Linked DNA regions of Homo sapiens: region 1 is linked to region 2. The links come from fine-mapping of genetic effects on gene expression. Tissue or cell type: whole blood. Region 2 holds a variant in brackets; the other region holds the start of a gene. All regions are shown on one strand. Distances are from middle to middle.

Region 1 (2,662 bases), 42 kb after region 2:
TGGGCAGGGGCCCTGGGCCAGGGCTATGGCCGTCTGGTCTGTCTCCAGGCCCTCAGGCCACCTCCTGGCCCCTGCGCTGCCCCTTACACGGTGGCCTTCCCCGAGGCCCTGTCTTCCTGAGGACGCCCGGGACTCCAGCCCCTCTCCTCTCCCTGCAGCTCATGGCTCCCTAATCTAATTCCACGGCAGAGCCCAGAAACGCCTGCTGACCTGCTTCCGCCGAGAGCAGCAGAGCCTGTGACGGGGCCCCTGGTGGGGGCCTGGGTTGGCTCTGTGCTGACTGCATCTGATCTGGCTGGGTGTGGCCCTGGTTGTCAGTGGTCAGCTGGAGACGCATGGCCATCTCCTCAGGGACTGCCACCTCCCACGCCTGACCTTGGCCCCGGGGCTCTGCCAGGATGCCCAGCCCTGGCACCTCCCTGTCCTGGGCTCTGCAGGCCAAACTCCTCCCCTGGTATGGGGGGAGGCGAGCAGCTGCCCGGAACCTTCCAGTCCTTGTTGCTGGAGCCAGTAGAGCCTGGGCAGTGGGTGGGAAGAAGGGCGGGGTTCTCCCCAGTGTGGTCACGAAGCATGGGCATGGCCAGGACACAGGTGGCTGGTGTTCAGCCGGGGTCTGCCCACCTCCCATTCCCACAGCTGCCCCTGGTGTCCCGGCCTGGACTTGGGGATGGGAGAGCCTGTGCTGTCCTGTAGTGCGGGGCCAGTACACAGGGTGGGCTGTGTGGTCCTGGTGGCAGTGGGACCTGGAGTCCTTTCCTCAGTGGGAGCTGAGACGGTGGGGTGGGTCCTCCTTGGGCGAGGCCCCTGTCCAGGTCAGATGGCTGTCATCCCTGCAGGGCAGAATGTGGGGACAAACGTGCCCTGGGCATGGGGCCACCTCCTCCGCCACAGCTCGGTGACCGTGGAGAAAGGTCAGGCTGGGGCTGCAGCTGCATGAGGGAGACATGGAGAGCCCAACCCAGGCTCAGGGACCCACATCCTGGGCCTGGGCTGGGAGTTGTCGCTGTAAGGGATCCGGCTCGGCTCCCCTCTCCAGCCACAGGGGCTGGGCGCTGCGGGGATGAGGTGAGCTTCTGCCCCTGCTCTGGGCCACCTGCCTCTGGACTTTGGGGATCCACTCAGAGGTCCTCATAAGTAGGGATGCGGGGTGAGGGCAGGGACCACTCCAGGCCCAGCCTCGGCATCTGTGGTGGGCGCACAGCGGGGAGGCCCACCCCACACAGGGTCCTCGGAGGACAGTACCCTGCAGGCCTTCCGGTTGCGTTCTCTGGGTCCCAGGAGGGCCCTCCCGTTGGTCCTGCTCTTGTCCCGCAGCCCTGACCTGGGTCTGGTGGCCTGGGGCCTTGGGAAACTCTGTTGCCTCCCCAGTGCCCTCCCATCCCCAGCTGGGAGTTCCCTCGGCCTAAATCCTCCACCAGCTGGGCTGGAGCTGGGATTAGCACAGGGATTGGGCCTGGGGCTGGGCGGGGCTGAGGTCCTTTGCTCCCCCAGCCTTGGGAGGCGGCTGCGTCAGGGATTCCTTGGTGGCCCTGGAGGGTGGATAGGCTGGCCTGGGGGCCATCAGGACAGCAGGTGACGGTCAGGCCAATGCCAGCCGGGCCTGGGCACAGCCCTGTGGGGGCTTCGGAGGGCCCTGAGGAGGAGGAGGAAGAGGCAGAGGAGAGAAGGCCCCACGGAGGTCCTGTCGCCAGCGCTGCCACTGCCTGACCTCCGCTGCCCGAAGGCCGGTGGGCCTCTGTGGCCTCCGTGAAGCAGGCCCGGCTGTCGTCAGGCCATGTCTGGTCCATGGCCCTCCCCCGACAGCCGGACCAAGGGAACGGTGGCCTGGCTGGCGGAGGTACTCCTCTGGGTTGGAGGGAGTGTGGTGCTGTCTTCAGAGTGGCAGCTCGGCCCCCTGGGTAAGAAGGGGCAGGCGAGTGGCCTGGGCTGAGTGCTGGCCCTGGCCAGGTGACTGGTGGGTGGGGGCTGTTCCTGGAGGTGGGGGAAGCCTGGGCCTCCATCCCATCCTGCACTCGCCTCCCCTGTCCCCCGGGTGCTCTAGGGATCATGTGGGTCCAGCAGCGTCGGCTGGCCCTGCCCCTCAGCCGCTCAGAGGCGTGCTCAGCACACCTCGGTCTCCCAGGCACCTGCAGGGCCTGGGGGCTGAACCCAAGGGGGCGAGGGGGGATCTCAGGTGGCTCCAATGCTCTCATTGAAGGGGTGCCTTGTGCTCTGGGGGTCAGTGGTGCTTGCAGCCCAGGCGGCTGGGCTGGCATCCTGGTGCCGGACATGAGGGCCTTTGCCGTTAGGAGACTCTGCAGAGGAGACTGGCTGGGTATGGCTGGGAGGGTGGAGTGTGTGTCTTGTGGTGGCCTGTGGAGGGCCCCGGTCCGGGCTGGCCTGCCAGCTCTCTGTTCCAGCGGCAGACAGGGTCCTGTCCAGGCTGCCCTGTTGCAGGCCTCTGCCCGCCCCCTGCCCCTGTGTCCTGCCTCACCCCTCTCCTAAATCCCTGCAGCCATACCTGCGTCTTCACCTCCCATGTGCCCCGGAGAGCCCAGCCCCCCATGCCATGGCTTCCATCCCTTCAATTCCCCTCTGCTCGTGATCACGTAGTAGCTTCCCCAAGAAGGCCCGGCCAGTACTGCCCTTGGTCCTCTACAACGCCCCCGCCAGGGTCCCTCAG
Region 2 (2,836 bases):
CCCGCTGTGTACGTGCTCAGGTGTCCGGGGAGGACCAGTGTGCTGTGGTGTGGGTGGTGGTGCTGGGAGCAGAGGCAGGCAGGTTTTGTGGGGCTGACTGCATGTGCACCTGGGGCTGCTGGTGGCCTGGCCTCCCTGGCATCTCCATGTGGATGAGGCTGGCAGCATGGCCCTACTTGGCCGGGGGCTGCTGAGGCCCATCCGGGCCGGTGTGCTCCTGTCCCCTGGAGTACTCCAGCGGGAGGCTGTGGCTCTTGGGGTTCAGGGCTGCTGGAGTATGTGTCCCCGCCATTCTCACTGAGCTGGAGCTGGAGCGGCTCAGTCTCGGTGCCTTGAGGCTGGCACAGGTGGGAACGGTGTGTCCGCACAGCAGGAGCCTCCCCGGGGGCTTTCTGACTTCAAAGTGCACTCAGATCTGCGTTTTCCTTCGGACTCTACACCGGCTCTTATGTTGGCGGCTCTTGTATGTTTCTTTTTTCCCTGATCATGAAAGCAAGACTCACTCAGAGGAGATGCTTTGGAAAATACAGAAAAAGACAAGGGAGAAAATCAGACCAGCCATTGCCATCCACCTCTCCCCGCTCCTTCGTGGCTTTGGGTGCCTGGGTTAGGCAGAGCCCCTGCCGGCTCCCCAAACCCCCTCAGAGCCATCGACTCCCTCCACGGATGTGCCCACACTGGGGGTCCCGGGTGATGTTGGCCGTTTGGTCCCTTCAAACGTTTGAATTTTCCCCTGGAGCCCGGCTTTGAGTGTCTGCCTCATGCTCCGAAGGGCAGCAGTGCAGTCTCCCCGGGCACCCAGGAAACTCGACGAGCTGCTGCCATCAACATCGCAGGAGGTTCCTTCACAGGCATCGCGCGTCCGGCTTCGTGGCGGGTCTCCCGTTGTTTCCTTGGAGGCTGCGGGTCTCCCTGGGTGGCGTTTGATGTATGTGCACCGAGCTCTTTGAGGCTCCCACCTTCAGCTTCTTACTGAGCAACCAAGGGAGGTGGCTGGGTGTGCCAGGGGCCGGCGGGGGCCGCGCCTGGGCAGGGGGCACCGCGCCTTCCCCAGGTCAGTCCCTGCCTGAAGCCAGGTCAGAGGCTTTTCTAGAAGGAGGCAGGACACACGGACTCACCTTCACAGCCGTTTACAACCTGGGAAGGTGGCCCCAGCTCCTTGTGCCGTGGGGCCCCTTCTCTCCCGGGCACCCACAGGGCCTCTGGCAGGGGCGTATTTCCCCCACGCACAGGTTCCTTATCTGTCTCC[T/A]CAGCTGTATCCAGAATGCAGTCTGGTTGTGGAAAGCAAAATTAAACACTGCCTTTGTAGACAAAGCAGCTGCCGCCAGGTGCGGGCGGCACAAGCTCTGTCACTGGCCTCGGGGGCCCTGACTCTCCTTTGAGATGCAGAACCCTGGACACTGGGCCGTGGGACCCTCCAGTCCCGGAAGGGCCAAGTGTGGCAAGGGCCTGGCTTCCAGCAACCCCCTTCCCCCCACAGCCAGCAGAGGAGCCCCAGGCTGCCCGGGCTGCCAGCCGCACTAAAAGTGGGGAGAGCCTCGCCGGTTGTGTCCCCACTCTGGGGCCATGCAAGCTCCTCTCCCTGGTGCCACGTGCACTGATGATGTGCTTCACCTGGAAATCGAGGCTCCCCGTGGAAACCACCCCCGGGCAGAATCAGCTGTGGGTTGCGTATGTCCTCGGGCGCCCATGCTGTACCCAGGCTGCCCAGGAGAGCTGAGCCCGCACGGGAAGGCAGGCCCCTAGAAGTGTGTCCCCGTGGCCCAGAGCTGGCTTCTCAGGGGGGATTTGTTCTGAGAAGTCCGTGGCCTGCGAGCCTCAGCATGCAGCAGGCCGGGCAGAACACCGGGGCGCAGGGACTTGGCTTTGTCAGCAGCAGGAGGCAGGTGCACTGACCTGGATGGTCCTGCCTGGGCTGCAGAGAAGTGGGCAGTCCAGGAGCTCTGCTGGGAGGAGGAGTGGAGCTCACCAGGACGAAGGAGAGCATGTGGAAGATGGTCCCGGGGGTGAGGACCTTTCCTCCAGGAACCCCTGTCACCTGCGGACAGTGAGCAGGCCAGAGGCCGGGCAGGGGCTGTGGGGGGTGGGGCCCGGTTGCTGCCTCTTGCAGGGAGGGCACCTGGGCTCGGGGTGTTTCCTCAGAGAGGATAGGGAAGTGAGGCTCACGCCCAGGGGTCCCCGGGCTCTGGGCTGACCAGCGCTCTCACACCACCCTGGGTAGTCAGAGGGCACCAGCAAAGCTGTTTTAGGTTCCAAATGGCTGGAGGCTGGAGGCTGGAGGCTGGAGGCTGGAGGCATGTGTTAGTGAGGCGGGGATAGCAGGCGCAGGGGCCTCTCTTTGCAGGGACTGGGGAAGGGGCCAGGGACCTCAATGGGGTCCCTGGGGAGGACAGAGGTGGGAATAGTTGCTGGCTGGCAGGGCCCGAGTGCAGCGTGACACGGCTCTCAGAGCCCACAGCACGCCTGGCCTGTTGTGATCTCCAGGAGGGGAGACTGGGTTTCCAGGGTCCTTTGATGGCTGTGGAGTACAGCCAGGGTGGAGAAGATGATGAACTGTGGGCAGCTGGGGTCCAGAGCCCCTGCGATGGGAGGCTCAGCTCAGTCTGGAGTGAGCCCCCACACCTGGGGGGCTCAGCTGGGAACACCTGGTCTGTCCAGTGTGGGGCTGAATTTGCTGCTGAGACTTGGGCTCTCATCATCTCTCTCCCTCTGGCCAGGAAAAGAGTGAGGGCCCCTCCTCCCTTCCTCCCTCCTCTCCTCCTCCCTCCTCCCTTCTTCCCTCCTCCCTTCTCCCCTCCTCCCTTCCTCCCGCTTCCCTCCTCTCTCCTCCCTCCTC

Evidence for each region. PIP is the estimated chance that this variant, and not a neighbour inherited with it, causes the effect.
Region 1: PLCH2 starts here. The variant in region 2 is fine-mapped to the expression of PLCH2 in whole blood (TOPMed, PIP above 0.99).

Annotation. Positions count from the first base shown.
Region 1 is chr1:2,474,815-2,477,476 of GRCh38, forward strand. PLCH2 (phospholipase C eta 2) reads left to right here and starts at 1,475. Exons shown (of 22, transcript NM_014638.4): 1 at 1,475-1,898. The coding sequence starts at 1,775.
Region 2 is chr1:2,433,197-2,436,032 of GRCh38, forward strand. It overlaps a transcript of PLCH2 not described here. Among named protein-coding and RNA genes, the nearest start is that of PEX10, 22 kb to the left of the region's middle. The variant T/A (reference allele first, on the strand shown) is at 1,250.